Linked DNA regions of Homo sapiens: regions 1 and 3 are each linked to region 2. Evidence: fine-mapped expression QTL. A gene starts in region 2. Each other region holds a variant in brackets. All regions are shown on one strand. Distances are from middle to middle. Region 1 overlaps CCDC81 (coiled-coil domain containing 81). Region 2 holds the start of HIKESHI (heat shock protein nuclear import factor hikeshi). Region 3 overlaps LOC105369421 (a long non-coding RNA gene).

Region 1 (7,700 bases), 78 kb after region 2:
GGCTGGGGGAGCCCTCAGGAAACTTAAAATCATGGCAGAAGGGGAAGCAGGCATGTCTTACATGACGGCAGGAGAGAGAGAGAGAGAGAAGCCCGGGGGACCAGGGGAAACTGCCATTTATAAAACTCTCAGATCTTGTGAGAAATCCCTCACCATCATGAGAACAGCATGGGGGAAACTGCTCCCAGGATCCAATCCCCTCCCACCAGGCCTCTCCCTCAACACCTAGGGATTACAATTCAAGATGAGATTTGGGTGGGGAAACAAAGCCTAACCATATCAGACAGAGATGTCCCACATACTGTCTAATCCTACACTTGGATAGACTCTCCCATTGTCAACATCCCTCACCGGAGTGGTACATGTGTTACAATTGAACCTACATTGACACATCAAAATCACCCAAGTTTCATAGTTTACATTAGAGTTCTTTCTTGGTGTTGTACATTTTATGAGTTTGGACAAATGTAAAATGACATGTATCTATCATTATAGTCATATAGAGTATTTCACTCCCCTTTGTTCTGCCTATTCACCCCTACCCCTAATCCCAAAATCTGGAAACCACTGATCTTTCCACGGTCTTCATAGTTTTGCCAGTTCCAGAATGTAATATAGTTGGAATCATATAGTTTAAGCCTTTTCAGATTGGCTTCTTTCACTTAGCAATATGCATTTAATATTCCTCCATGTCTTTTTGTGGCTTGATAGCTCATTTCTTTTTAGTTCTGAATAATATTCCATTATCTAGATGTACCACAGGTTTTTTTTTTTTAATCTGTCCACCCACTGAAAAATGTCTTGGTTGCTTCCAAGTTTTGGCAATTATGAATAAAGCTGTTTTAAATATCTGTGTGCAGGTTTTAAAAAACTGGATATAAGTTTTCAATTCACTTGGGTAAATACCCAGGGACATAATCGCTAGATTGTATGGTAAGAGGATGTTTAGTTTTGTGAGAAACTGCCAGACTGTCTTCCAAAGGGGCTGTACTATGTTGCATTCCCAAGAGCGATGAATGAGAATTCTTGTCACTCCATGTTATTGTCAGCATTTGTTGTTGTCAGTATTTTAGATTTTGGTCATTCTAATAGATGGTGTATTGGTATCTCATTGTTTTATTTTGCATTTTCCTGATGATAAATAATGGGGAGCACCTTTTAATATGCTTGTCATTTTTTGATGAGATATATATAAAGGGCTTTGGCTCATTTTTAAATTGAGTTTTTCTTTTCTTTGTGTTTTTAAGAGTTATTTGTATATTTTGCATGACAGTGTCTTTTGCAAATATTTTTTCCCAGTCTGTGGCTTGTCTTCTCATTCTCTTGACATTGTTTTTCACAGAGCAGAAGTTTTAAATTTTAATGAAGTCCATCTTATTATTTCTTGCTTGGATTATGCCTTTGGTGTTTTATCTAAAAAGTCATTGCTATACCCAAGATCATCTAAGTTTTGTCCTATGTTATCTTCTAGGAGTTCTGTGGTTTTGCACTTCATATTTAGGTCTATGATCCATTTTAAGTTAATTTTTGTGAAAGGTGTAAGGTCTGTGCCTAGGTTCTTTTTTTTTTTTTTTTTTTTTTGCATGTGGATGTCCAGTTGTTCTAGCAATGTTTGTTTAAAAGACTATCTGCTCCATTGTATTGCCTTTGCCTCTTTGTCAAAGATAAGTTGACTGTATTTATATGGGTCTATTCCTGGGCTCTCTTTTGTGTCCTTTTAATCTATTTGTCTGTTCTTTTGTCAATACACACTGTCTTGATGACTCAGCTTTATTGTAAATCTTGAAGTTGGGTAGTGACAGTCCTCTGACTTGTCCCATGTGTTATCTAGATGCATATTATTTAGTCCCCATGTATTTTGGGATTTTCCACTTATCTTTCTCTTATTCATTTCTACTTTAATCCCATTGTAATCTGACAGCAGGCATTGTATGATTTCTATCCTTTTCTATTTGTTAAGGTGTGTTTTATGGCCCAGAACATGGTCTGTCTTGGTGAATGTTCCATGTGAGCTTGAGAAGAATGTGCATTCTACTGCTGTTGGATGAACTAGTCTGTAGATATCAACTATATCCATTTGATTGATGGTGCTGTTGAGTTCAACTATGCCTTTACTAATTTTCTGCCAGCTGGATCTGTTCATTTCTGATAGGTGAGTACTGAAGTCTTCAAGTATGATAATGGATTCATTTATCTCTTCTTGCAGTTCTACTAGTTTTTGCTTAATGTAATTTGACATACTATTTTTAGGTGCATACATATTAAAAATTCTTAGGTCTTCTTGAAAGATTGACCCCTCTATTATTATGTAATGCTCTTTATTTCTGACAACTCTCCTTGATTTGAAGTCTGTTCTAAAATTAATATAGCTACCCCTACTTTCTTTTGATAAGTATTATCATGCTGTATTTTCCTCCATCCATCTACTTTTAATCTATATGTTTTTAGATTTAGATTGGGTTTCTTTTAGACAAGATATAGTGGGGTTTTGTTTTTTGGTCCACTCCAGCAATCTTTGTCTTTTAATTGGTACACTTAGCCTATGTTCAAAGTGATTACTGATATAGCTAGATTAATACCTACCATATTTGTTATTGTTTTCTACTTTTTGCCCTTGTTTTTTGTACCCATCTTTATTTTCCACTGAGCATTTTACGATTCCATTTTCTCCTTTTTCAGCATATCAGTTATACTTTTTTTTTTTTGAGACATAGTCTTGCTGTGTCACCCAGGCTGGAGTGCAGTGGTGTGATCTTGGCTCACTGCAAGCTCCGCCTCCTGGGTTCATGCCATTCTCCTGCCTCAGCCTCCCCAGTAGCTAGGACCACAGGCACCCGCCACCATGCCTGGCTAATTTTTTGTATTTTTAGTAGAGGTGGGGTTTCACC[A/G]TGTTAGCCAGGATGGTCTTGATCTCCTGACCTTGTGATCCGCCTACCCCAGCCTCCCAAAGTGCTGGGATTACAGGTGTGAGCCACCGTGCCAGGCCCAGTTATACTTTTAAAAAAAATTTTAGTAGTTGCCTTAGATTACAATATATATTTACAGTCAATTCAAGTCCACTTCCAAATAACACTGTACCACTTCACAGGTAGTGTGATTGTTTTATAATAACAAAATCTTAATTCCTTCCTCCCATCCCTTGTATCATTGCTGTCATTCATTTCATTTCACTTATATATAAATGTAAATATATATGATATATGCATAAGCATACATAATTGAATACATTATTGCTATTACTAGACAAACTGCTATCTGTTAGGTCAGCTAAGAATAATAAAAATAGGCCAGGTGCAGTGGCTCATGCTTGTAATCCCAGCACTTTAGGATGCCAAGGTGGGAGAATCGCTGGAGTCCAGGAGTCCAGGATCAGCATGGGCAATATAGTGAGACCTTGTCTGTACAAAAAATTAAAACCAAAAAAATTAGATGGACATGGTGGCACACGACTGTAGTCCCAGCTACTCAGGAGGCTGAAGTGGGAGGGCTGCTTGAGAGCCTAGCAGGTGGAGGTTGCAGTGAGCCAAGACTGCACCGTTGCACTCCAGGCTGGGCAACAAAATGAGACCCTGTCTCAAAGAAAAAAAAAGTTTTTATTTTACCTTCACTTATTCCTTCTTCGATGGTCTTCCCTTTTTTTTTTTTTTTAAATGCAGATCCAAGTTTCTGACCTACATCATTTTCCTTTTTTCTGAGGAACATCTTTTAACATTTCTTGAAAAGCAGGTTTACTGGCAATTAATTCCCTTAATTTTTGTTTGTCTGAAAAATAATTTCTCCTTTGCTTTTGAAAAATAATTTTACAGGATGCAGAATTTTAGGTTGGTGTTTTCTTTTTCTCAACACTTGAAATGTCTTATGGTACTCTCTTTTTGCTTGGTTTCTGAGAAGTAGTTCAATATAATTCTCATCTTTGTTTCTCTATAGATGAGGTGTTCCTTTCCCTCTCTCTGCCTGGCTTCTTTCAGGATTTGTTTTTAGCTCTGATTTTCTGTACTTTGAAAATGATATTCCTAGGTATCTTTTTTTGGGTATTTATCCAGCTTGGTGTTATTTGAGCTTCCTGGATCTGTGGTTTCATGTCTGACATTAGAGGGAAATTCTGAGTAATTGTTTCAAGCATTTCCTCTAATATTTCTCCCTCTTCTCCTGGTATTCCCATTATGGGTACACACCTTCTGTAGTTGCCTCACAATCCTTGGATATTCTGGGTTTTTTTTTTCCAGTCTTTGTTCGCTTTCCTTTTGAAGTTTCCTTGTCACATCTTCAAGCTCAGAGATTTTTTACTAAGTCATGTCCAGTCCACTAGTAAGCCTATCAAAGGCATTCTTCATTTCTGTTACAGTGTTTTTAGTTGCTAGCATTTATTTTTGGTTCTTTCTTAGGATTTCAATCTCTCTGCTTATGTAGCCCATCTGTTCTTGCATGCTGTCTACTATATCCGTTAGAGCCCTTAGCATATTAGCCATAGTTGTTTTAAATTGCCAGTGTGATAGTTCCAACATCCCTGCCATGTCTGGCTCTGATGGTTGCTCTGTCTCTTCATATTGTATGTTTTGCCTTTTAGTATGCCTTGTAATTTTTTCTTGATAGCTGGAAGTGATGTACTGGGTAAAAGTAACTGCTATAAATAGGCCTTTAGTAATGTAGGGGTAGAGTGTGGGGGGTGGGAAAGCATTCTATAGTCCTATGATCAGGTCTCAGTCTTTTAGTGAGCCTGTGCCTCTGGACTGTGAACTTTACAAATGTTTCTCAGATTTTTCCTTTCTCCTTAGGTGGGACAGAATGGCTAAAGTGGACTGGAGTTGGTCATTTTCCTTCTCTCAGGTCAGTTAGGCTCTGATAATATCCCAGCAGGTTAGGCTCTGGTGAACTAGTTTCTTCTGAGGGCAGGTCATTAAGGACAACAGAGTACTCTGGCATATTTAAAAATGGTATTTTTTTCTTCCTCCCACCTGAAGCACAAGGAGATTTTTCTCTTATATTTACCTGGATATTTGGCTGTGGGAATCTGGTTGAGCTCTGGGAAGTAAACCTTAAAATATGTGGGGACCCTCCCTCCATGACTGGGTTCCCCTGGAGGTTTTAACTCTTGGTGTTGTCCACACTGAGCCTCCAGAAATTTGTCAATTACACTTTGAGTTTTCTTACCCAGCATTGGTTCTTGATGCTGTTTCTGCATGTGAGTCCGTTTCAGGAAGCCATTCCTCCTGGTATTTGCCTTTCTGTCTCTCCAATTTTAGGGGCAGCAGTTTGTCCTGTGTCCTCCCTCATCTTATGGACCCAAGAAGAGTTGTTGATTTTTCTGTCTGGTCAACTTTTTAGTTGTTAGGATGGAGTGGTGACTTCCTTACATACAGCACCAAGAAATGGAAGTCAAATGAGAACATTTAATAGAGAGTAAGGATGGGGGTGTGTGCCAAGAATGGCTAAAGAAGGGATAATTTGAGCTGAGTTGTGAAGAATGAGTTGGAATTAAGTAGATGAAATGGATCAGAGAGGTAGAGAGTGGAAGTGAGTTGAAAATGATTTTGGCAAAGGGAATGACAGGGGCAAAAACTTATGGTGAGAGTATGATGTGATGGAGCAACTGAAAGACAGTTGACTGGCTGCTCTGTAGATGTGGGGAGGCAGTGTATTCTAAAGTAGGCTAGAGAGAAAGGAAGGGGTCAAGTAATACAGGGCCTTGTAAGTCATATTAAGGATGTTGACCTTTATGTTAAGCCTGATGGGAAGCCATTAAGTGTTTTGAGCTGGAGGTCAAGGAGAAGTTGAATTATATGATCAGTTTATATTTGGAAAAGATTACTCTGGTTGCCATGTGGGGAATGAATAGGAGGGTCAAGAATACCTATAGCAATAGTCTTGGTGAGAACAAATGGTAGCTTGGTCTAAAACTGGTAATAGTAGAAATGCAGAGGAATGCAATGAATGAGGGGCAACTTGGAGGTAAAATCTACAGATTATGGTGATGGACTGGATGTTAGGGGTGAGGGATAAGAGAAGTCTCAAGGATGACTTCTGAGTTCCTGGCTCATATAACTGAATAGATAGTGGTGCCATTCACTGAGACCGAAATCCTGGATAAAAGACAAGATTTAAGAGAAGAAAGATTGCGGTTTTGGGCAAGTTGAAGGGCCTTTTTGTGATATATAAGCAGGCAGTTGGATAAACGGGTCCAGAATCTCAAAGAGGGGGTGGCAAGGAGTCTGGGTCTGTAAATAAACATTTGGGAATCATCCTGAGTGTGGGTGTGACTGCTGAAGTGGAGAGTATAGAGTGAAAAGAGAAGCAACCTAGGACTGTACCTTGAAAAACCCTACCATTTAATGGTTGGGTGGAGGAGGATAAGCCTGCAAGGGAGACTGAAGAAATGGCCAGACAGTTAGGAGAAAACCCAAATGAGAGTAGTAGTATAAAAGCCAAAAGGAGAGGTGCTTAAACGGGGAGGGAGTGATCAATAGTGTCAGACATGGCTGAGGGCTCAGAATTAAATACGTTTATTGAATGTATTGACAAAGAGACCATTGGTGACTTCAGCAAGAGCTGAAGTGAAAGTCAAACTACTATTTATTACCTTTCACAAATTATCTATTGCAACAAGGATGAAGATAAACTTCAAACTGAGCAAAACACATAAATTAACTTTCATCAGTGTATATATTCATCATTGTATATTCCTGCTGCTTCTGTATGTTTTAGCAAAGTTTAATATTATGTAATTATAGTTCTTAGAAGGCCCTGTCATCATTTTACAGATGTGAACTGGGTAAAAGTTGAGTCCATGGAAGCAGGAAGGCTGTGGGTCTTCCACGTAGCACACTGCTCTTTCCATTGCATTATGCTCTGGGAATATGTTTCTTTGTTCAAATCATCCTTTACTATTCTGCTATACTATTCCATATATCAGTATTTTAATTTTAGAAGATAAGTTTTATAACATCAGGAAACATATCTGTTTTTTGACATTAATGACTTTTTCAAGCATATAGTATTGTATAATTTACAGAACAGGCATGTAGGATTTTTAAATAATGATCATATGTAAGATACAGTATCCTGTTACTTGGCACGGTGTTTAAACATATGGTTTTGAGCGCATGGAATGTTAAGAATTTGAAGCCAAATGAAGGTTGAACTGAATATAGAGTATATGTCTAGGGATTAGTTCTTTATAAGAGTGATTCTTGGCATTTCAGTGTTTGATTGAAATAAGTAAGAACCCTGGCTTCCCTTAAAATATGAAAGTAGTATATCCTTCAATTTGCTTTTTAGACTTGATATTTTTCATTTTGAGATTTAATGATATCCTCTCTGACTCTTTGGGATGTCAGAAAACGTCAAATTTAGAAATTACAGTCTGTAAGCTTTCCAAATCTATTCCGATTGGATTGCAGGGGCCTAAAGCCTCCTAAGGCAAATGATATGCATAGTTTTCTTTCTCTTCAATGAGAAATAGCAAATTTTAGTTTAGAATAATTAGTTCTGCTCTTATGTAATGTTATCTGTTAGGCTTTATGGAATAAAACAGTACAGTGGGCTTGAATATATCATCCAAATGAAGAAAGACAGAATCCTCAAATTTTCAATTAAACTCAGCTGAGTCTTTTCACTGGGGTTTGGTTGCAAACTATACACTTTCTCCTGGCTCTAATGAAATCATTTCATCTTCAGTGTAGTTGTTTTCCTAAAATACGAGC
Region 2 (7,700 bases):
AATCATGACGGAAGCGGAAGGGGGAGCAGGCATATCACATGGCGAGAGGGAGCAAGGGAGATGCCAGGCTCTTTATTTTTTATTTTTTTAAACAATCAGCTCTTGAATGAAATAATACAGTGAGAACTCATTACTGCAAGGATAGCACCAAGCCATTCACGAGGGATCTGCCCCCATGCTCCAAACACCTCCCACTAGGCCAACCTCCAACAATTAAGTTCACATTTCAGCATGAGATTTGGAGGAGACAAATGTCCAAGCCAGATCAATTTCTTACAACAATTTTTTGTAGTTTTCAGAGTATATACTTTATACTTCTTTTGTTAAATGAGAATTTTAAATGAAATTATCTTCTTAATTTCATTTTTGGATTGTTCACTGCAAGTGTATAGCAACACAATTTATTTTTGTATATTGACCTTGTATCCTTCAATCTTGCTGAAATTGTTTATTAGTTCTAATAGGTTTTTAGTGGATCCCTTAGGATTTTCTATATACAAGATCATGTTGGCCAGGCGTGTTGGCTGACACCTGTAACCCTAGCACTTTGGGAGGATGAGTTGGGTGGATCACCTGAGGTCAGGAGTTCGAGACCAGCCTTGCCAACATGGTGAAACCCCATCTCTACCAAAAAATACAAAAATTAGCCAGGCATGGTGGTGCATGCCTGTAGTTCCAGCTACTTGGGAGGCTAAGGCAGGAGAATCGCTTGACCCTGGGAGGTGGAGATTGCAGTGAGCTGAGATCGCCACTGCACTCCAGACTGGGCAACAGAGTGAGACTCTGTCTCAGTCTCAAAAAAAATAAAAAATAAAAAGATCATGTCATCTGTGACTAGAGATTGTTTTACTTTTTCATTTCCAGTTTTATTTATCTTGCCTAATTGCCTTGGCTGGAACTTCCAGTGCAATGTTGAGTACAAGCAGCTATAAAAGACACCTTTGTCTTGTTCCTGATCTTTCACCATTAAGTATGAGGTTAGCTGCGGAGTTTTTGTAGATGTTCTTCATCAGGTTGAGGAAGTTCTCTTCTATTCCTAGTTTGTTGACTGTTTTTATCATGAAAAGAGTGTTGGATTTTTCCATCAATTCTTAAAACGTGACCCTTTTCCCCTATGGATGAGGGATGTAAAAAAGAGCTATCTCTGCATGGATGATATAGTACAAAGCACTCTCACGTGGATGCTTCAGAAAAAGCCACCCCTCTTTGGGTGGACATAGTCTGGGATATGTTTGACTTGGTGACCAAGGACTCCTCTCTCATTTGGGTGTCCTTATTTAGGACCGAATCTGTACATGGTGGCCTTAATTTACAACCACTTTTTTTCAGTATATGGTTTCCTAGTACCCAGGGTGCCTCTGATTTAATTTTTTTCCACAGAGATTTCATACCAGTGGCCTTTTGCAAGGTGTGGATGAGGAACAGATATAAACATCTTAACACTGATTTTAAGCAATCTACCTGTCTTACCCTTGCATTCTGTGGCCCCTGATATCTCCAGTTCCTGAGCTTCTCTGATATTTATCTTTCTCTGTAGTACCTGAGTTTGATCTTCCACGCCTCTGCTAAGTCATTTGCCTTTCTTTTATCTACTTTCCATTGATATCTGTTGTGACTTGGGGTTACAGATATCTCCCAGTTCAGGGAAGACAGAGTTTGTGTGTCTATTTGTTGTTCTCCTTGTTTTGTAAAGAAAAATTTTTCAGAGAAGAGAAAAAATATTTTTTTGCTCTCTTCAAGTCAGAATTCAACCTAGAATTGGAAGAAACATAATGGCCAAAATGATAAAATAAATGATCTCATCATTAGGTTAATTAATGAAGAGCTAACACCAGGATTCAGAATCCCTGATACCCTGGCCACAATTAAACTATAACTGGTTCTTACTCCATAGAATCATATAGTTTGAGATGGGGGGGAGTACCTCTGAGGTTTTCAGCCAATTTCCCCAATTTTCCGTAAGTCTCCTCAACAATGTAAGTGGATTTCAGCATTGGTTACAATATCAATGTGAATAGGAGCATTCACTCTATTCCATGACTATCTATTCTTATTTCAGAGAGCTCTGATTATTGGAAAGATTTTTTTCCCTGAAACATTTTTTCACTTCCTCACACTGTATCTAGTTCTGCCCGCAGAAGTTACAAAGAACTACTGTATGTACAAATAATATAGTTTGGTAGCTGGAATACTGGCTACTCTAGAGATATGATACTGTACTCACTGCCTCTAACTCTTTGTACAATCTATAACTAAGACAGTTGACCAGCAAAATGGAGAAAAAGCTCATATCTCACATAACAGAGATTGAGACAATTAATAAACATCATCTGTAATTTATAAAAAAAATTCTAAGCTAGCTAGTTCTCAATCCACTAAATATAAGATTGCTGGGTAGGAGAAGAAATGACTATCAGGTGGGTCATAGAAAGGTTAGTGAAGAAAAGTGAGAGGATGTGTAAGAAATAACCAAGTGAATATTACAGGGAGATAAAACAAGTTGCATAAGCACATACAAATTTAAAAGTAGGAGTTGCTCAGAGAATTCAAAAGTATGGCTAGTGCACAAGGTGGGTATGAAGAAGACATGGAAAATTAGTTAGGAAAGGCAATAATGCTAAATATTAACATTTATTGAGTAAGCTACATTCTGGCCACTATTGAGTACTTTACGTGTAAGAACCCTCAAAACAACTTTATGAGGTAGATACTACTATTACTTCATTTTAAAGATGGGGAAAAGGAGGTATGGGAGTGTTAGGTTAACTTGCCTGAGATTATGTAACTAATAAATGGCAGAGATGGGCTCTGAACCCAGGTAGTGTGGGTGCCTTAATTTATGAAGTGGTCTTCATATGAATGGCCTTTTTATTCTGAAGGTTCTAGGACTTTTTAGATAGTAAGTTGGAAACATTGGTAGATCCTTTCCTACCTCTTCACCTTTGGCACAGCTATCTCAAAGGAGTATCGGTGATAAGATAGGTGATCAGTTTAGGGATCCACAGTGGAGGCCAGAGGACTGTTCCAAACACTGATCCCCCATATATAAACTGAGAACTGGGAAGACAGACCTGCTTTACGGCTGGTGGCCAAGCTCAGATATTTCAAATTGGACAGAGACCCTTTACTATCCTATTCAAGAAGAAAAGGAATTGGAGCTGTGAAAGGGAGAATAAGTATTGGTGGCAATCGGTACTTAATGCCAGTATTTTTTTTTTTTTTTTTGGCTATTGTTTTGTATTTCCTATGAAACTTTTCTGCAGATCCACATAGAAAAAAAATAGACATTTTTACAATAAAACTCCCACTAATTAAGCACAGCCAAGCACTGTTTTAAGTGTTTTATACATATTAGCTCATTTAATCCTCACAGCAACCCTAGGCAATAGGCTCATTATTTGTCTTTTGCAAAGGAGGGGCACTGAAGCACAAAGACATCTACAACTCGTCCACAATTGTACAGCAAATGAATGGGAGAACTAAGTGAAGCTGGAAAGAACTACTATAAATTGTAGACAAGTACAAAACAATTGGTTAAAGATTAATACTTCTGAGACACTGTGTAGCAGAAAGAAACCCGGATTTGGATTAGGACTTGAATTCAGCCTCCAACATTTACTGCTGTGTAAAGATTTGAGGCTGATCACTCCTATAAAATTTGGATTATAATACTTACCTCATAGGGTTTTTGTAAAGATCTAGTGACGTGATTATTGTAAAAGTGCACCGTTAATCTCTCAGATGTCACAGAAACGTTAGAAGCATCTCTTCCCAGGATTGTACATGGAAATGAAGGATCCACAGATTTTGTGGCTATAAAACACCCGGACTACCGATCCCAGTGTGCAAAGCCTCCAGGCTTACCTTCCCGGAAACTGGCGCGGTGCCCTCTGGGACTTGTTCTGGGACTTGTAGTCTTGTACTGGCGCTGGCCCGCCTTTCTTCCTTAGTGGGGAAAACCGGGTGTAAGCCCCGGAAGTACTTGTTGCCTGAGCAGTGGGCTGCTTAGGAAGAGAAGGTCAGAGTTCGCGGGGGCAGAGGCATTCTTGCCGCTGGCCCAGTCACTATGTAGTGGAGGGGCAGACACCCTCCCGCAAATTCTGGAAGGTTCTTAGTCTCGACTAGGGCAGTAGCCCCAGGACTCCTAGTCGCCGGCTTCAGGTCACTGCCGGCTGAACGGAGCTGCCGTCGCCATGTTTGGCTGCTTGGTGGCGGGGAGGCTGGTGAGGATGGGACCGGGTGATATCAGGAAGGGGTCAGGATACCGAGGGCGAAGCCCTACGGCAGGGAGGGTGCGCAGGCGCTAGGGATGCGGGGAAGCCCACTTATTATATTTTGGGTGGGTATGTGAGGATGGAGCGTGGGAAGCTGGGTGCTCTCCTTTGCCCAGCTCTATTCAGATTCTTTCGAATAGTAGTCACAGTATAAGTTGGCATTTATTAAGTGTGCATTTTGTACCAAGTACTGGGCTAAGTGCAATGCACGCCTTTGGTCACTCAGCCTTATGTGTGGCGCTTATTTGGCACTTTGAACTTAATCCTCATAACTCGTGAGATGGTCTTTATCTTTGACATTTTGCAGTTACAGAACTAAGTTCAATCGCCAGTATAAATACCTTCTTTATTAACTTGAGGTAGAGGTGAATTTGGGATTGAATTTGGTCTATAGCAAACTGTTTTTCAAAGATTAAGGTGCTCAGGGAATGTATATCTTTTGGGTCCCTTTGGAAGAACCCGAGTAAAAATAAGCTTAATTTAATTGGAAGTTGGCTGAAACTTAACGTGTGAGCCGTATCTGAGATAACCAGAGAAGGATGCGAGTAGTGTGTTTCCTTATGGGTCAAAATAGATAACTTACCTTGCCAAATTGTTAGAGTAAATGAGAACAGCACCTGGAATTCTTTAGGAATAATCTGGAAGGTGAATCTTGTTTGTTTCCTTAGAAACCACACAGACATCAATTTTCAGGCCTGATTCCTTTCCCCTAGAAGTATTTTTCCTTCTTTTTTCTCCTGGCTTTTTAAAATGTTGCAGTCCCTTTGCTGAATTGTCTTTTTTTCCCATCAAGTTTTGATAATGTATTGTATTCTGTACATATACAGTTCTAAGAAGCCAGAAAGATAAGTTGGAGATGACTAGCCTCATAAAGTTTGTCTCTTGAATGACTGGGAGACCCCTGTGGTGATGGTGGTAATTCATAATCCTGGTGAGATAATTTTGCCCTGCTCTTAATAGGGAAAAAGGACAAACCTGGAATGATTGTGTGACTCAGACGAGTGAGTGTTATTAATGAATGACATTAAAATTGTGTTTCTTAAAGAATAAAAAGCCTATTTGGAATCCATGTATCTCTCACGTTGTCAACTAATTTGGAAGGAAATTTAGTTATGGTAATACCTGCCTCTATATATTGGGGATACTTGGTCCTTTAATTATGGAGTATTAGGACACATCAAAGTGAAGGACAAATAGACCTAGTGGCATCTCAAAACTTAACTACACGACTCTGTTATAAGAAAAATCTACTTATCTAAACTTATGAACCCAGTTTTTATTTCTTAAGATTTTTTTTCTTAAAGAGATACACCTTTTCTTAATGTCAAAAATTAGAGTGTGATGATACAGATTTGCAGACTGTTCAGTACCTATACAAAGTTGACACTTAAGAAATATTTATTTTGCCTGGTGGTTATTTCAAGACTCATAAATAATAATTTCCCATGCTTTTTAGGTTATATGCATGCCAAAGACTGGTGAAATTGAATTTAATACTAATACAGGCCATTTGGTTTGTGTTATTCCTTTGTTTTATTCTTTATACTAAAGCTGGAGGATTTTAAAGTGGGTCAGAATACTTCTGAAGAGGGAATCAGAATTTGACTTTAGGAACACTGCCTTTGTATCTTGAGACTTAATTTAGGGCAGCCAGTTGATACTACTTTATAACTAATAGATAGTTGAAATTACATAGCAGTATATTTTTCCTAAGTTTATTTGTATCGGTAGATAGGATATTATAGAGGGAAAACTTACCTAACACACATATTTTCTCTGTAAGGCATGTCATAGCCTTCTTGCACTTAGGAAGACTAGCCAGCACTTGAACTTGGTCATTTTAAACAGCACGATCACCAACAAAAATCACAAAAATGCTTTAAATAGATGAGACTGTGAAAAGGACACTTTTTCATATTACGAGGACTGAAACAAGATGGCATGTTCTACCTCAGCTGCCAGTGTGTGAGTTGCACAACTCACTTTTTTTTTTTTTTTTTTTTTTGAGACGGAGTCTTACTCTGTCAGCCAGGCTGGAGTGCAATGGTGTGATCTCTGCTCATCGCAACCTCCGCCTCCAGGTTCAAGCAATTCTCATGCCTCAGCCTCCTGAGTAGCTGAGACTACAGGCATGTGCCCCCATGCCCAGCTAATTTTTATATTTTTAGTAGATACTACGTTTCGCCATGTTGGCCAGGCTGATCTGGAACTCCTGACCTCAGGTGATCAACCCGCCTTGGCCTCCCAAAGTGCTGGGATTACAGGCATGAGCCACTGTGCCAGGCCTACAACTCACATTTTTTACTACTGTTCATATGAGTATGTCCATGAATGACTGCAGAAATGCAGCAAGCATTGATTTGGGATTACAAGTGAGTTTTAGTGAGTAGGTGAATTCAGATACAGGATTTGTGAATAAGGAGGATTGCCTAATTACTTCTGGATTGCTTACCTGTTTTAATTACCTGAGATTCTTTTATTTATTTTTGAGACAGGGTCATGCTCTGTCATCCAGGCTGTAGTGCAGTGGCGGGACCTCGGCTTGCTGCAGCCTTGACATCCTGGGTTCAAGTGATTATCTGGTCTTAGCCTCCCGAGTAGCTGGGACCAAAGGCGCATGCCACCACCCCTGGCTAATTTTTGTAGTTTTTGTAGAGATCGGATTTTGCCATGTTGCCCTGGCTGGTCTTGAACTCCTGAGCTCAAGCCAGCTGACTGCCTCGACCTCCCAAAGTGCTGGGATTACAGGCATGAGCCACTGTGCCTGGCCCCTTTATCTTTAAGCTGGAGGGTGAGAGCTTAGGTGATGTGTTTTGAATAACCTTTCATTTTTACAACATTCTGAAGCTATAGTTATTTTTATTTATTTATTTTTTTGAGACGGAGTTTAGCTCTTGCACCCAGGCTGGTGCAATGGCGCGATCTCAGCTCACCGCAACCTCTACCTCCTGGGTTCAAGTGATTCTCCTACCTTAGCCTCCCGAGTACCTGGGATTACAGGCACGTGCCACCACGCTTGGCTAATTTCGTATTTTTAGTAGAAATGGGGTTTCTCCATGTTGGCCAGGCTGGTTTCGAACTCCTGACGTCGTGTGATCCTGGCCTCCCAGAGTGCCAGGATTACAGCCGTGAGCCACCGTGCCTGGCCTAGTTATTTTTTATGTAAGTAAAATCCTTTCAGGGCACCTCTGAAATAATTTATTTTTATTTTTATTTTATTTTTAGTTTTTGAGACAGTTTTGCTCTTGTTGCCCAGGCTGGAGTGCAATGGTATGGTCTCAGCTCACTGCAACATCCACCACCTGGGTTCAAGCGATTCTCCTGCCTCAGCCTCCCGAGTAGCTGGGAATACTTATGCATGAGCCACCATACCTGGCTAGTTTTTGTATTTTTAGGAGAGATGGGGTTTTGCCATGTTGGCCAAGC
Region 3 (7,700 bases), 61 kb after region 2:
CCTCTATAGTGAGCCACAGTGAGGGGGAGGCCAGTCAGCAGCCATATGGAGTGGGGTTCTGCTTCCCTGATCCAAATAGGTTGTTTTCTCTGTGTACAAACTAGACCTTTATAGAGCTTCAAGCTGTTCTTTACTAAAGAGTCAAGTGAACATTCCTGAGTCACTTGGAGTCCATAGGCAGAGATCAGGCATTCAGCTTTTGGTCTAGTCTCTCCCCACCTCTAAGCAAGAGGAAGGCAGAACCTCACCTCATAAGCCATCAGATGACAGGCTATCTCAGGAGCAATTCTCCGTTTCTTTTACACAAACCACCCTTTAGCCCTCCGAATAAAGTTTCAGCCCCTAGTTTCTTTTGCATTTCATAGATTTTCTTGCTTAATATAGCCACTGGATGTACACATGTATTCTTTCTGCTTTTTTGTCTCCATTTGTCTCTTCAGGGAGAGAGATTCTGTAAAGACTGAAGAACAGGGGGAGTCCACTGAGTGCTTTCCAGCTGCAGCTGGTTTCCCCCTAAAGTACCACAAATCAATGTGCCATTATGAGGATTAATTGAGGATTAATTTTCGTTCCATCACTCTGCAATCTAATCTACATTAGAAACATCTAATCTTCCTATTGACATTTGTCCTTTCCTTTTTCTGGTTTCCATTTCAAAGGACCCTCACATTAACGGCACATGGCTCTACTTAAGCAACCTGGTTAACTAAAGCTAGGATTTAAATGTTTCTCTTTAATCCTCAAGTTTATTCTCTGATAATGGGGTGGAGGGGTGGATAGTCTCCTTTTATGCCACCACACTAGTTGGATATTTAGTGGTTTTATAAACTTGTAAGCAGACAAGGCCACAGATATTGATTTGGACTAACTGAAGCAGAAGGAAATTATTGGAAGACTGTTGGGATGCTCAGAGTGATGGGAGCTAGGACAATCAGACCTGGAAATGGGCAGGAATCAAGAGGGATCTGGGGGATTGGCCATTAGGAACCCAGGCAATTTTCTTAAAGCAAGATAGTGAAAAGTGCATACCATCCCTGTGGAAATAACTTCCACATTTTCCTGCTGTCTGCCTGTCAACAGCTCAACAGTCTGAGCCCCAGAAAGAGCATCTGATGACTGATATTGGGTCACATACCTGGCCCCTGGTCCTGCAGAGTCAAGGAGGGCAAGGATCTGTTTCCTTCGGCTTTGGTAATGGAATGTAGTCACCAGGAATGGCAGCCCCACTAAGATTACACACAATGTAGATCTGTGAATTCCAAAAGGAAATGTGGAGGCTCTTAGGGCAGCCAAAACAAAACAAATGCCAACCAGAACTGTTTTTTTCTTTTGAGGTGGAATCTAGCTCTGTCACCCAGGCTGGAGTGCAATGGCACGATCTCGGCTCACCACAACCTCCGCCTCCTGGGTTCAAGCCATTCTCCTGCCTTAGCCTCCCAAGTAGCTGGGACTACAGGCACACGCCACCACGCCAGGCTAATTTTTGTAGTTTTAGTAGAGACAGGGTTTCACCATGCTGGCCAGGCTGGACTCAAACTCCTGACTTCAAGTTATCCACCTGCCTCAGCCTCCCGAAGTGCTGGGATTACAGGCGTGAGCCACTGTGCCTGGCCAGAACTGTGTTTTCAGTGGGCCAGTTGAAATGTAGGAGAAAGAAATTGAGAAATAAGGATGGAAGGAAACAGGGAGAAGGGTGGTAGAAAATGGAAGTGAGCAAGAAAGCAGAAAACATTCACTCAAGAAAAACTGTTCTTTGGCAATAGGTACATCTCTATGCAAGTCAGTGTGGCTTTTTTCCTCTAACATGATTTTAAAAGCTCTCTGAAAGCTCAGAAAACAGAAAACACATCTTGGTGACCTAGAAGTATAGTCATCTTCTTTCACCACCAGATGGTGCTTTATGTATAGAATGGAGGACAAGGATCCTGAGGACATTCCCAAACACTTGCATATTTAGGAAGCTCTTTTACTTAACAGTGATTCAAGAAATATTGGGGAAATGCAAGCCCAGATGAGGGACGCCTAACCTAGCTATACAGATAGGCAGGGGAGGGCGTCCTTAACCACAGTTGAGGCTTGCACCCAAGGACAGGATAGAGATTGGGAGGGGAATTCCAATTTAAGAAAGAACCACCAGAAGTAGAGAGGCTTAAGAAAGCACATTGCCTTCTAGGAATCACAGGTTGTAGGCTGGGAATGGACAGTATTTCAGGTGGAGGAAATAGAATGAACAAAGGTGTGAAAAATGTACAAACAGATTTGGATTTAACTATGGTTATTCAATTGTTTAGCTTATTATTGGGATTGTCTCAATTCTGCATCATATGACCTGACCTTGGAAAAGCGGGCCATCTGTTTAGGGTAACAACTATGATTCTATCCCTCAGAATACTCAGTTTTCCTTAGCCAGTCCTTGCTCTTTAGCTTCCCCATTTTCTTGTCCTTTTCTGTGCTAGAGGTGTATTGAAACTGATGCATTGCAAAACTGGTATTACATTAAATACACTGAACCTCAGATGCTTATGGAACACTTACACTATTTATACAGAAGAATAAGCAAAAGTGTCCAGGCACGGGGGCTCATGCCTGTAATCTCAGCGCTTTGGGAGGCCGAGGCGGGTGGATCATGTGAGGTCAGGAGTCTGAGACCAACCTGGCCAACATGGTGAAACCCAGTCTCTACTAAAAATACAAAAATTAGCAGGCTGTGATGGCAGGTGCCTGTAATCTCAGCTACTCGGGAGGCTGAGGCAGGGGAATGGCTTGAACCCAGGAGATGAAGGTTGCAGGGAGCCAAGTTTGTGCCACTGCACTCCAGCCTGGGCAACACGGTGAGACTCCATCTCAAAAAAAAAAAAAAAAAAAAAACCAAAAAAAAAGAATAAGCAAAAGCTCCTACCCTATAACACTGATGCATTCTGTTTGCATTTTATTCCATGATTTACACAATAATTATATATTGTATCCTTATGATATGTCAGATACTGTGTTGGCACTTTACATATATCTCACTT[A/C]ATCCTTAATACCATCTGGAAATAATAAACATTTTATGGATGGTGAAACAGAGACACAGAGAAATCGAATAGCCTGCTCAGGGTTTCCAGAATAGCAAAATTAAAGGCCTAGGGTTTAGTTTTCCACTAAAGATTCTCATGGCTGGCTTCTTCACGTCATTCAGGTCTCTGCTCAAATGTAATCTTAGAGAAGCTACATTAATCCATCTGAAATAGACACCTCACTGTGCATCCAATTGTCCTGCCTTATTTTTCTTTGTAACATTATTATATTATTTATATTTGTATTGTCTGTATCTCCTCCTAGACTATGATCTCTGTTAGGACAAGCTCTTGGTTGTGTTTGCTGCTTATTACCACACTACCCAGACCAGAGCCTGGCACATAATAAGGAGCTCAACAAATTTTTGTTAAGAATAATTGACTCTTAGACCCAAACTCTTAGCCACTATGCTATATTTTGTCCCTAGATGGGATTAAGAAGGTTTACATTTTGAATATCCTGATACCAAAGAGCATGCTGCACAAAGCCTGTGCATGGAATGTGCCAAATAGTATGTAAACTGCGCCAGACGCGGTGGCTCACGCCTGTAATCCCAGCACTCTGGGAAGCCGAGGCGGGCGGATCACAAGGTCAGGAGAGTGAGACCATGCTCGCTAACTCGGTGAAACCCCATCTCTACTAAAAAAAATACAAAAACTTAGCCGGGCGTGGTAGCGGGCGCCTGTGGTCCCAGCTACTTGGGAGGCTGAGGCAGGAGAATGGTGTGAACCCGGGAGGCGTAGCTTGCAGTGAGCCGAGATCGTGCCACTGTACTCCAGCCTGGGTGACAGAGCGAGACTCTGTCTAGAAAAAAAAAAAAAAAAAAAAAAAAAAAAAAAAATATATATATATATATATATATAGAGAGAGAGAGAGAGAGAGAGAGAGAGAGAGAGTATGTAAACTGCCACTCTATACTCTTAAAATTCGAGTTTAATTTACACACAGTAAAATAAATAAATCTTAAGTATGTATGTATTTTTACAAATGCATACACTTTTGTAACCACCAATCATATCAAGATACAGAACATTTTTTAGCCTCCAAGGAAGCTCTCTTGTAGTAACTCCCAGTCAATACTCTACTTTGCAGAGATAAATATTCTGACTTCTATCAAATAGGTTAGTTTCTGGGTCTTAAGCTTCACATAAATGCAGTCATACAGTTTGTACTCTTATGTCTCTCTTCTTTTGCTCACCATAATATTTTGGAGATTTATCTATGTTCTGTATATCAGTGGTAGTTTATTTTTTTATTGTTGTGTTATATTCCATTGTATGAATAAATAACAATTTGTTTATACATTCACCTGCTAGTGGATGTTTAGGCTGTTGCCAAGTTTTGGTTATTAAGTATAAAGCTGCTTTAAATATTGTTGTAAAAGTTTTTACAGACATATGTACTTCATATGTTATTTTAGGGGGTATATAATTAGGAACAGAATTGCTGCATCATAAGGTAGATGTTTGTTTATCTTTCTTTTCTGAAGAGTGCCTGTTCAAGTGTTTTGCCCATTTAAAAAGCTTTCTTATTGATCCGTAGAGTTATTTATGTATATAATCCTTTAACAGATATAAGTATTGCAAATATATTCTCCTACTTTGTAATTGCCTATTCAATTTCCTGCTAATGTATTTTGATAATAGAGGTTCTCAATTTTAATGAAGTCAAATTTATCAATTTTGTCTCTTAAGGTTAGAGCTTTTTCTGTCATGTTTAAGAAATCATTGTCTACCCCAAAGTTATGAAGTTATTCTGTTTTCTTCTAAAGCTTTCTGTTTCAGATTTCACATTAGAGAATATGATCCACCTTGAATTAAGTTTTGGATTTGTTGTGAGTTAGAGTTTATTTTCTTTCCCATATGGATATACAGTTGTTGAAGTACCATTTAATAAAAACACTATCATTTCCCCATTGAATTGTAGTAACACCTTTGTTATAAACTAAATGATGTATATGTAGAGGGTATTTCTGGACTCTGTTTTGTTACATTGGCCTATTTGCCTCTCCTTGCACCAATACCACCTTGTCTTAATTACTGCCGCTTTATAGTTAGTCTCGAAATCTGATAGTAAAGTTTTCAACTTTATTCTTCTGAAAGATTATTCTTGGCTATTTTAGGTTCTTTGCATTTCCATATAATTTAAGATTTATCCTGTTGATGTCGACCAAATATTTTATGTGGGTTTTTATAGGTTGGGTTTGCATTGAATCTACTTATCAAATTGGGGGAAATTGACATCTTATCAATTTTGAGTCTTTTGATTCATGCACATGATATAGCTCTTCATTTATTTAGGTCACTTTTAATTTCTCTCAGGAATATTTTGTAGTTTTCACTATTAGCCTTGTGGAACTCTTCTTAAATTTGTTCCTAAATATTTGATTTTTTAATGTTACTATAAATTACATTTTAGAATATTTCATTTTCTGATCATTTCTTGATAGTATATAGAAATATACTTGGTTTTCATGTGCTGACTTCGTATCCAGAGAGCTTGCTAAATTAATTCTAATAGTTTGTATAGTTTCAGATTTTCTGTCTTCACAATCATGTAATACATAAATGAAGACAGTTTTACTTTTTGTTTTTGATCTTTATACCTTCTATTTCTCTTTCTTGTCTTGTAGAACTCTCTTGGGCCTACAGCATAATGATGAATAACAGCTGTGGTAGTAAAGATCCCCATCTTATTCTTGACTCTGGGGAGAAAATGTTAACCATTGATAATGACACAGCTACGGGGTTTTATTACTAGATAACCCTTTGAGATTAAGGATGTTTTATTCAATTTCTCCTTTGTTGAGGATTTTTTTCTAAAATCATCAATGCATGTTCAGTTTTATCAAATATATTTTCTTCACCTATTAAGATGATTTTATTCTGCCCCTTCTTCCCATATTATTCTGTTAATGTGGTGAATTATAATGACAGAATTTTTAAATGTTAAATCAACCTTTTATTCCTGGAGTACATCCTTCTTTGTTATGGTATGTTATTATTTTTTTATATTCCTGGATCCCATTTATTGATTTTTGTTTTGTTTTGTTTTGTTTTGAGACAGGGTCTTGCTCTGTCACCCAGGCTGGAGTGCAGTGGTGTGATCATAGCTCACTGTAACCTCATACTCCTGGGCTCAACTGATCCTCCCACATCAGCCTCCTGAGTAGCTGGGCCTACAGATGCATGCCACCAATGTAAACACATTTTTTAGAGACAGGATCTCACTATGTTGCCCAGGCTGGTCTCAAACTCATGGGCTCAAGTAATCCTCTCACTTTTGACTTCCCAAAGTGCTGGGATTACAAGCATAAGCCACTACACCCTGCCAATTTATCGATATTTTGTTACGATTTTTATATCTATGTTCAAGAGAGATTCTAGACTATAAATTTCCTTACTTGTACTGTCATATTTTGGTATCAATGTTTTGCCAGTCTTAAAAAGTGAGTTCAGACATGTCTCTTCTTTTTTAATTGTCTGGAATAGTTTGTGTAAATCCAGTATTATTTGTTCTTGAATTATTTGTAAGAATTTAGCATTAAAGCCATATAAACCTGGCATTTCTTTGCAGGAAAGTTATTTTTTTTAAACAAACATATGGAAGTAATTTGCTTTGTTTATGTCAGCACAAACTTAGTCATTTTCCACATACACCCTCCCAAGACTAAACCAGGAAGAAGTTGAACCCCTGAAAAGACCAATAACAGGCTCTGAAATTGAGGCAATAATTAATAGCTTACCAACCAAAAAAAGTCCGGGACCAGATGGATTAATAGCCGAATTCTACTAGAGGTACAAAGAGGAGCTGGTACCATTCCTTCTGAAACTATTCCAAGCAATAGAAAAAGAGGGAATCCTCCCTAACTCATTTTATGAGGCCAGCATCATCCTGATACCAAAGCCAGGCAGAGACACAACAAAAAAGAGAATTTTAGACCAGTATCCCTGAGGAACATCAATGCAAAAATCCTCATTAAAATACTGGCAAACCGAATCCAGCAGCACATCAAAAAGCTTATCCACCATGATCAAGTTGGCTTCATCCCTGGGTTGCAAGGCTGGTTCAACATACACAAATCAATAAACGTAATCCATCATATAAACAGAACCAAAGACAAAAACCACATGATTATCTCAATAGATGCAGAAAAGGCCTTTGACAAAATTCAACAACCCTTCATGTTAAAAACTCCAATAAACTTGATATTGATGGGACGTTATCTCAAAATAGTAAGAGCTATTTATGACAAACCCACAGCCAATATCATACTGAATGGGCAAAAACTGGAAGCATTCCCTTTGAAAACTGGCACAAGACAGGGATGCCCTCTCTCACCACTCCTACTCAGCATAGTGTTGGAAATTCTGGCCAGGGCAATCAGGCAGGACAAAGAAATAAAGGGTATTCAATTAGGAAAAGATGAAGTCAAATTGTCCCTGTTTGCAGTTGACACTGCATATTTAGAAAACCCCATCGTCTCAGCCCAAAATTTCCTTAAGCTGATAAGCAACTTCAGCAAAATCTCAGGATAGAAAATGTGCAAAAATCACAAGCATTCCTATACATCAATAACAGACAAACAGAGAGCCAAATTATGAGTGAACTCCCATTCACAATTGCTTCAAAGAGAATAAAAT

What was found. PIP is the estimated chance that this variant, and not a neighbour inherited with it, causes the effect.
Region 1: its variant is fine-mapped to the expression of HIKESHI in whole blood (TOPMed, PIP above 0.99).
Region 3: its variant is fine-mapped to the expression of HIKESHI in nasal epithelium (TOPMed, PIP 0.97).

Annotation. Positions count from the first base shown.
Region 1 is chr11:86,376,410-86,384,109 of GRCh38, forward strand. All of the region lies in intron 1 of CCDC81 (coiled-coil domain containing 81), which reads left to right. All of the region lies in intron 2 of LOC105369421 (a long non-coding RNA gene), which reads right to left. Among named protein-coding and RNA genes, the nearest start is that of CCDC81, 5.4 kb to the left of the region's middle. The variant A/G (reference allele first, on the strand shown) is at 2,889.
Region 2 is chr11:86,298,256-86,305,955 of GRCh38, forward strand. It overlaps HIKESHI (heat shock protein nuclear import factor hikeshi), which reads left to right and starts at 3,985. Exons shown (of 5, transcript NM_016401.4): 1 at 3,985-4,223. The coding sequence starts at 4,194.
Region 3 is chr11:86,359,079-86,366,778 of GRCh38, forward strand. LOC105369421 (a long non-coding RNA gene) reads right to left here. Exons shown (of 5, transcript XR_007062826.1): 3 at 1,136-1,249. Among named protein-coding and RNA genes, the nearest start is that of CCDC81, 12 kb to the right of the region's middle. The variant A/C (reference allele first, on the strand shown) is at 3,015.